Regions from separate parts of the Homo sapiens genome. Here region 2 is reported to be linked to region 1. The links are microRNA targets in miRTarBase. Many come from high-throughput screens and were not tested one by one. Region 1 holds a microRNA gene; the other region holds the end of a gene's coding sequence. Distances are from middle to middle.
The links. Region 1 holds the annotated microRNA hsa-miR-6720-3p (CGCGCCUGCAGGAACUGGUAGA, at 1,532-1,553, opposite strand). A microRNA usually pairs through its seed, bases 2 to 8, with sites in the 3' UTR of a target mRNA and lowers its output. Matches are read on the target gene's strand: a 7mer-m8 pairs with bases 2 to 8, a 7mer-A1 pairs with bases 2 to 7 and ends in A, and an 8mer does both.

Region 1 (4,377 bases):
TGGGGGGAAGAAGTGGAAGCAAATGCAACCCTAAGTCCCATGAGATCCAGGTTTCCAGAGTCTTTGAAACTTGGCCTAGGTTTCTCAGTGTAAATCCCTCTGCTCAAAGTTCCGAAAACGTCCACGATCGCCAGCGGCCCGCAACCCTGCGGCGGCCCCCAGTCGCCCTAACAATTGTCGGGGAGCCTGCAGGCCCTGCCAGAAAGAGAGAGGATTGGCACGTTACCTTTGGGCGTCTGGCACCCCGGCGTGTGGCTGAGGGCGGCAAAGTCTAAACGAAGTTGACAGATGGAGTCAGTATCGGCCCTGGGGAGGGCGGCCAGGGAGGCTCCGAGCAGCCGCACCCGCAGCAGCACCACTCGGCCCGGCGGGCCAGGAGGAGGAAGGGGGCGCGGAGGGGCGGGGCTGGGTCCTGGGATGGGACGCGGGGCTTGCTGCGGGGGGCAAACAGAAAGAATATTTCATGAAGTCAGAGGTGGTCGAGTTTTGCGAGGGGTGGGGGTCGTCCCCCTGGCAGAACCGGAGTGAGTCTGTGATCCCTCAATTGGAAAGAGGGTGAGTGAGGGAAAGGGGAGGAGGCCGCGAGAGGAATGAAGAGCGAGGAGACCCTGGAGAGCGGGGAGCGAGATAAGAGAGGGAGGCGGCCGCCAGGTCGGGAGGGGGAGGAGTGAGCGCGGCGGCGCGGAGCGAGGAGGGGGCAGGGCGGGGTGGGGGGGGAGGGAGGGAGGGAGGGAGCGAGGAGGGCGGCCGGGGAGGGCGAGGGAGGGAGGAAGTCCGAGAGACAGAGCGAGGAGCGCTCCTGAAGGGAGACGTCGGGCTCGTCCCCGGGGTCCAGGCCGCGGTCCCACTCGCGGGCGCAGTCGCCCGGCGCCGGCCGCTCGGCCCCGCGGCCTGGGAGGCCGTTGCGCAAGGCAGGGCCCGCGGCTCGGGGAGGGATGCGCCGGGCGTTGCCTCCCGCCCGCCGCCGCCGCCGCCGCCAGAAGCCCCAGAGGAGCTGAGGGAGGCGACGCCGAAGCGCTGGCCCGGAGTGGCCACGGCTGCAGCCCGGGCGGCGGGCTAGGGCGCTCGCAGGGCTTCTGGGCCGACCCCGCTCCGGCGCCTCCGCTTCCCGCCCGGGGCCCGCCCTCGCGGCCCGGCCTCGCTCCCGGGTCCCAGATGACCACCGAGGGCGGGCCGCCGCCGGCCCCGCTCCGCCGCGCGTGCAGCCCGGTCCCCGGCGCGCTCCAGGCCGCCCTGATGAGCCCGCCGCCCGCCGCCGCCGCCGCCGCCGCCGCCGCCCCGGAGACCACCTCCTCCTCCTCGTCGTCGTCCTCCGCCTCCTGCGCCTCGTCCTCGTCCTCCTCCAATTCGGCCAGCGCCCCCTCGGCTGCCTGCAAGAGCGCGGGCGGCGGCGGCGCGGGCGCCGGGAGCGGGGGCGCCAAGAAGGCGAGCTCGGGGCTGCGGCGGCCCGAGAAGCCGCCCTACTCGTACATCGCGCTCATCGTCATGGCCATCCAGAGCTCGCCCAGCAAGCGCCTGACGCTCAGCGAGATCTACCAGTTCCTGCAGGCGCGCTTCCCCTTCTTCCGCGGCGCCTACCAGGGCTGGAAGAACTCGGTGCGCCACAATCTCTCGCTCAACGAGTGCTTCATCAAGCTGCCTAAGGGCCTCGGGCGGCCCGGCAAGGGCCACTACTGGACCATCGACCCGGCCAGCGAGTTCATGTTCGAGGAGGGCTCGTTCCGCCGCCGGCCGCGCGGCTTCAGGCGGAAGTGCCAGGCGCTCAAGCCCATGTACCACCGCGTGGTGAGCGGCTTGGGCTTCGGGGCGTCGCTGCTGCCCCAGGGCTTCGACTTCCAGGCGCCCCCGTCGGCGCCGCTCGGCTGCCACAGCCAGGGCGGCTACGGCGGCCTCGACATGATGCCCGCGGGCTACGACGCCGGCGCGGGCGCCCCCAGCCACGCGCACCCTCACCACCACCACCACCACCACGTCCCGCACATGTCGCCCAACCCGGGTTCCACCTACATGGCCAGCTGCCCGGTGCCCGCGGGACCCGGGGGCGTCGGTGCGGCCGGGGGCGGCGGCGGCGGCGACTACGGGCCGGACAGCAGCAGCAGCCCGGTACCCTCGTCCCCGGCCATGGCGAGCGCCATCGAATGCCACTCGCCCTACACGAGCCCTGCGGCGCACTGGAGCTCGCCTGGCGCCTCGCCTTACCTCAAGCAGCCGCCTGCCCTGACGCCCAGCAGCAACCCCGCCGCCTCGGCAGGCCTGCACTCCAGCATGTCCTCCTACTCGCTGGAGCAGAGCTACTTGCACCAGAACGCTCGCGAGGACCTCTCAGGTAACGCAGCACGCTCCAGCCCAGCCAGCTGGGCGCACCGCTTCTAGGCCTCCAGGGCTGGCGGCCACTGCCACTCCCACAAACAGGGACCCCGAAGCTAGGAGGTCTGAGGGCACTGGGAAAAGCAGATGCTGGGGAAAGCCGGCATCTTATTCGTGGGAGCAGGGATCAGGGTCTTACTGTCCTCCCAGTATCCCTGGCCAGCAGCCGAAGCTTCAGAATTGTCTGGCTGCTGTGAGCGTGGTGTAAAGTCCCCTGCCTTCCTGGGCTCTTTGGGGATCCCTGTGCAGGAGACTGCAGGTCTCCCGTTCAGAGTCTCACTTAGCTTGGAGAGAAGGCATCTGGCCTTTGGGGAACTTGGTCAGGAAGCTGTGTCTAGTTCCTTTTGTCCCTTTTTTTCCTTGCGTTCATTTTGCTGTACTTCTGTCCCGAAGTAAATGTCAGAATCAGATATGTTCTGTATGTTGGGGTGTCTGCAGCGAGATGTTTGCAGCTGGGCAAGTGTTAAGAGGAGGGGGTGGGAGGGACAGAGCTGGATCCCAGGATCTTTCACTAAAGGGACATTTGCCAGTGGAGGGGGTCACCAAACTGTTGGAGACTCCTCCCCTTCCCTGCCTCCCCCCCCGCCCAACAATGGACCCACATTGATGATACAGGTCCTGGGTGGCAGGACCTGAAGGACCCTGCTAGGACTCCCCTGAGAAATGCGCCTGCCCTGTGGATGCCACTTGTAGTGTGGCTGGTTTACATTGTTCTGGTTGCAGATTATGAAAAATTATTGACTTGCTGAAGGCGGTGAAAGGTGGGAGGGGACGGTAGGGATGGAAGAGGGAATTTGAATATTTGACCAGGTTAATGTGAAGAACAGAGATAAACCCTTACATTAACCCCTCGCTCGGAGCACCTAGGGCTGCAGATTAAAATCCCATGGGCCTGCCAGTCAAAGGCAAGGCCCCAAGCTACTCTCTCACACTGGCCTCCCACAGCAATGAGACAGTGGCTTGGAGGGTGATGCATGCTTTATGTGTTCCTGAGCCGGTGTGCAGCGGGAGCACCCGGGGAGAAGGAAAGCCCAGAAATGGGCAAAAGATGTTGGTTCCCTGGACGGTGAAATTTCCCAAATAGGCCTTTTAAATGTGGGTCTCAGAGGTTAACCAAACAAAGACAGTCTCGGCAGGACCACACCGGAGAGGATTTTAGCCTGACTTAACCCACTGAGAACAGAGTCTTGTTCAATTTTATGGGAATTTCAACAAGTAACCAATACAGGCGGCCTTCCCCTCTTATTTTTGTATTCCCTTGGACCGGCTGTCAATCACACACACACACACACACACACACACACACACACACACACACCCCTCGGTGCACTGGCCCCTTCCCTTCCCCGCCTGCCTGCTCCTCTCCCAGCCTGCCAGCTGCCCTCCCTGCTCCCCTTCTTCTCCTCTCCCGGCAGATCCACTCAACTTGAACCCGGACTCTGAGGCTTAGCAGCCTTGGAGAAACCGTACTCTAGGAAGAAAAAAAAGCACACAGGAAAGAGACTCCTGACCCTTCCTCAAGGCTGCTCTCGCCCCACCTCATAACACTGGGCGCAGGCACAAGCTCCCAAAACTTCGGAATCTGGATACATTACTGTCTTGGAGGGGGTGAAAACTGCCCAGCAAAGCAAGCCGGCCTCTGTGCCCCTACCCAGCGGCCTCCCGCGGCCGGCCTTCCCTGGGAGCCTCGCAGAACCCCCGACCGAGTCTGGGAACGCCCGGGGGAGACAATAGCTCGGGCCTGACGCCCGACAGGGACCCTCTGCCCTTCCTTCCTCGCTGTCTTGCTCCCGTCCCTATAGGATACCCACCCGGCCCTGTTGCCATCTCCCTGGAGCGCCAGCGGTGGAGGCTTCGGAGGAGCCGGCCGGATGCACCGGGACCCCGCGGGGCCTAGTTGGGAGCGCGCCGCCCACTGAGGCCTGGGGGCCCGGCGAGGCGCGGGGGTGGCCAAGGCAGTCTCCCCGGCACACAGATCAGCACATGTCTACGCGCACACACCCAGCACGA
Region 2 (4,377 bases), 150 Mb from region 1:
TGTGAGTCTATGTATGTGTGAGTGTGAGTGTGTGTTTGAGTGAGTGTAAGAACATGAACCCCTCATGGGGGCCTCCTCCTTGGGGTGCCTATGCTCTCCCTCCTGACTCCTCTTCCTCACTGCACTTGCTTTTGCTCCACTCACTGTGGATTTCTCACCAGCCTCAAAACTGTGGGCGTCATTGTGTTTCTAGACCTTTCTCCTTAGATTTCCCTCCTCCTAGGATCACTTTTCCTTTCCTCTCCCTTGGTTTGTTTCTGGAAATCCATCAAAACCACCTCGAATGGCAGCCCCGAGACTCTCCTGTCCCGGCCCTAGGGCATCACCTCCTCTTCCGCCACAGCAGGAGGGTGGGCTGTGCTGTCACCTTGCTTCCCTCAGCAGCTGTGTGAGCTCCCTGAGGACAGGGAGCACCCCTTCTCCCTTCCTACCCCCAGGACCTGTCACAGCGGCTGCCCCACAGCAGGGGAGACAAATCCTCTGCCTTCCCGGATGACCTGGGGTAGCAGGAGCTAAGGAGCCATCTCCTCAGATTTGGAGCGTGGACAAGAGTTGTCACTTTTGTGTTTCCCTTTCAGCACCACCCACCATGGCCCCAGGCTTAGCTCAACCCAAAGCCATAGCCACCACCCTCAGTCCCTGGAGCTTCCTCATCATCCTCTGCTTCATCCTCCCTGGCATCTGAGAAGAGTCATTTAGAGTGACAGGTACTGTGGGCAAAACTGTGAGGGGAACGAGAGACAGATGGGTGAGGTGGGAGGAAGGGAAAGGAGAATTTCCAGAGTCCCACCTCTCCCCATGGCCGGGACCTTCTCGTTCTGACATGAGACAGGTGAATGAGACCTGGTGTCGCCTGTTTGCAATGACCTGGGCAGCTCAACCTTGAGTTCTGATGGATTCTCACCATCAGGGCCAGAGGGAAAGGGAGGGACCCATATCAAGGCTCAGGGCCGGTTGAGTTCAAGAGGGTTTAGACAGTTCAGGCCTATTTCACAGCAGGTTTCTATCTGGGAAGGGTAGTGGTGTGTGGCCTGCAGGCAGCAGGAACTCAGGCATGGGCAGTCTGCACAGTAGGAGAGGAGTAGCATGGCCACTTCACCAAGGATGTCAAGGGAAGGGGTGTCCCTGGAGGAGGCTAAGAAGAGAGAAACCTGGGGGAATCCCAGGACGAGGGGGCTGTGAGGGCCTTGGCCCACCCAGTTCCTAAGGCTGCATTCCCAGAGAGAGCACCTTGAGTCCCAGCAGTTAAGGTGGAAGGTGAAGAGTAGAGCGTGTCCAGGATGAGGTTTAGGAAATGGCCGAGCCCCTTGGACCCATGGGATTCCTGGCTAGGCCCTGGGACGATGCCACTGCCATTCTGCCTCGTGCACACTCCAGATCCTGAGCCAGCTGATGGCCCTGCCTGGAGCAGAGTGGACTCAGCTAGGGCAGCTGAGCTGCTGCTAGAGGTCCGTGGTCACCACTGAGCTTGGCCAGGAATGAATGGGGCAGGGCAGGGACAGTCCCATTCAGAGCTATGGGTGCAGCTCCCAGGGTGAGGAGAGGCTGAGAGCGAAGGAGAAAGAAGGTTTGCCTACAAACCCACCCAAGGCCAGGGAACATGGATCCAGAGACCTCTCTTTGGACAGGGCTCCCCCAGGTCCTCTAGACCCTTCTATGAAAGGGAGGAGCAGGCCCTGAGTGAGGGTGCAGACCCCTCATTACCAGCCTCAGGTCTGAGCCCCTATGGGCTGTAACAGGACCTGGGCTGCCTCTGTGGTGTGGTGAAGGAGGGTGGAGGTTGGGAAAGGCTGCACAGCCAGGGGTAGGGTTGGAGGGAAAAACATGTTCCTTATCTGGGGGAGAAGCTCTGAAATGGGGAGGGCCTGGGAAGGATCACCCAGGAGAACAGACCCAGGTTTTTCTCAGCCACTTAAACCAATGCTTCATCTTTCCTCAAGGTGGAAGGTGATATCAAGAAGCCTCTGTTAGCCTGGTCTGGTTCCTGCTCTCCCTTCAGGGAGGCCGCCTGTCTACTCACCACTGTGCCTTTCTGGAAAGCAGGAGTTCAAGCCTTAGCAAGCCCAGAGGCCCCCAGCAGATGATGAGGACATTGTCGGCTCAACATCTCAGGCCACTCATTACCTTCGCTCATGATCCCAGCAGCCATTTTTCTTTTTTTTTTTTTGTTTTTTTTTTTTTTTGAGACGGAGTCTCGCTCTGTCGCCCAGGCCGGACTGCGGACTGCAGTGGCGCAATCTCGGCTCACTGCAAGCTCCGCTTCCCGGGTTCACGCCATTCTCCTGCCTCAGCCTCCCGAGTAGCTGGGACTACAGGCACCCGCCACCGCGCCCGGCTAATTTTTTGTATTTTTAGTAGAGACAGGGTTTCACCTTGTTAGCCAGGATGGTCTCGATCTCCTGACCTCATGATCCACCTGCCTCGGCCTCCCAGAGTGCTGGGATTACAGGCGTGAGCCACCGCGCCCGGCCAGCCATTTTTCTTAACACCTTCTGCCACTTTCTCTCGGTGCTAATGGATGGAATTCCTGCACAAGTTTTAACTGAACAAGAAATCCCAGCAAAAGGCATTTTCTTTCTACTTCTTTGATTGTGGAAAAGCAGACATTTCTCTGAAGCATGACCTTATTCTTCGAAACGGTATTGCTAGTAAAATAGCATGCAGGACTTCAGACCTCAGGGATCCTTTCCATGCACTGACCAAGAATTGTATTAATCCTTTTTATCATTATAGTTTTTTTACATTTTCTCATTCTGTCAACCATATTGGAGTGAAGTGGCATAGTCATCACTCACTGTAATCTCCAACTCCTGGGCTCAAGTGATCCTCTAGACTCAGCCTCTAGAGTAGCTGGGACTACAGGCGCATGCCACCATGCCTGGCAAATTGTTTTATATTTAGGTAGAGATTGGGTCTTCCTATGTTGCGCAGGTAATAAAACTGTGAAAATCCTGGAATATAAGCTAAGAAATACCAATGTGGACATAGGGCCTGGCAAAGATTTCATGAAGAAGACACTAAAAACAATTGTAACAAAAACAAAAATTGACAAATGGGACCTCATTAAACTAAAGAGCTTCTGCACAGAAAAAGAAACTAGCAACACGGTAAACAGACAGCGTGTAGAATGGGGAAACTATTTGCAAACTCTGCATCTGACAAAGGTCCAATATCCAGAATCTACAAAGTACTTAAACAATTAGACAAGCAAGAAAAAAAAACCCAATTAAAAAATGTGCAAAGACATGAACAGACACTTTTCAAAAGAAGACATACAAGTGGCCAACAAACGTGAAAAAATGCTCAATATCACTAATCATCAGATAAGTGCAAATCAAAACTGCAATGAGTTACCATCTCTTACCAGTCACAAAGTTGGAGATGGTGGTGAGGCTGCAGAGGAAAAGAAACAGACACTGTTGGTGGGAAAGCAAACTTGTTCAGCCGCTATGGAAAGCAGTTTGGAGATTTCTCCAAGAACTTAAAATAGAACTACCATTCAAGCCTGCAATCCCACTACTCGGGATATATCCACAGGAAAAGAATTCATTTTATCCAAAAGACACCTGCACCAATATGTTCATTACAGTGCTATTCTTACTAGCAAGGACACAGAATCAACCTAAGTGCCCAGCAACACTGAATTGAATGAAAAAAATGTGGTACATAAACACCATGGAAATCTATGCAGCCACCAAACACAGCAAAATCATGTCCTTTTCAGCAACATGGATGGAACTAGAGGCTATTATCCTAAGCAACCTAATGCAAGAACAGAAAACTACATACTGCATGTTCCCATTGGAAAGTGGCAGCTACACATTGAATTCACATGAACCAGAGGCACTGGAGATTACTAGACAGGTGAGACAGGAGGGGCACCTGGGCTGAAAAACCACCTGTTGGGTACCATGCTTACTGTTTGAGTGATGAGATCATTGGGACACCAAGCCTCAGCCTTCCAAAATCTACCCATGTAACAAACCTGTATGTGTACCCTTTAATCTATAATAAAGGTTAAAATTAAAGATTCGTAAGTAAAATAAAATGACATAGAGCCCTCCAAAAAATGGGGTTAACTGAGTGGAACGAGAGAACTTTGCACTATGAACGCTAACCCAGATCAAAAACTAAACTCTAGTCATTTAAAATAATCGTAAGTTGTATATGATGATAATTGTATAAAAGTTATACGTGAAAGTGCCAAACCCTAAAATTAAACACTGCATAATGAAATTATACAAGATTTCCATTTCCATCTTGTTCTTTATACCCTTACTTTTTTTTTTTTTTTTTTTTTTTTTTGCCAGTTTCAAGTGACATTTTTTTTGTTTATCCTCAGGAAATCCTTGCTGTCAGCCTTCTCCTTCTACACCC

Region 2: the mRNA of ULBP3 is a reported target of hsa-miR-6720-3p. Seed matches in the 3' UTR shown: 8mer at 2,860-2,867.

What each region holds. Positions count from the first base shown.
Region 1 is chr6:1,388,793-1,393,169 of GRCh38, forward strand. It overlaps MIR6720 (microRNA 6720), which reads right to left and starts at 1,619; the gene lies at 1,522-1,619. FOXF2 (forkhead box F2) reads left to right here and starts at 784. Exons shown (of 2, transcript NM_001452.2): 1 at 784-2,326. The coding sequence starts at 1,156. It overlaps FOXF2-DT (FOXF2 divergent transcript), which reads right to left and starts at 669. Exons shown (of 3, transcript NR_187218.1): 1 at 227-669. RefSeq lists an enhancer at 1,966-2,831.
Region 2 is chr6:150,060,915-150,065,291 of GRCh38, reverse strand. ULBP3 (UL16 binding protein 3) reads left to right here. Exons shown (of 5, transcript NM_024518.3): 4 at 579-707; 5 at 1,941-4,239. The coding sequence ends at 685. Among named protein-coding and RNA genes, the nearest start is that of ULBP3, 6.0 kb to the left of the region's middle.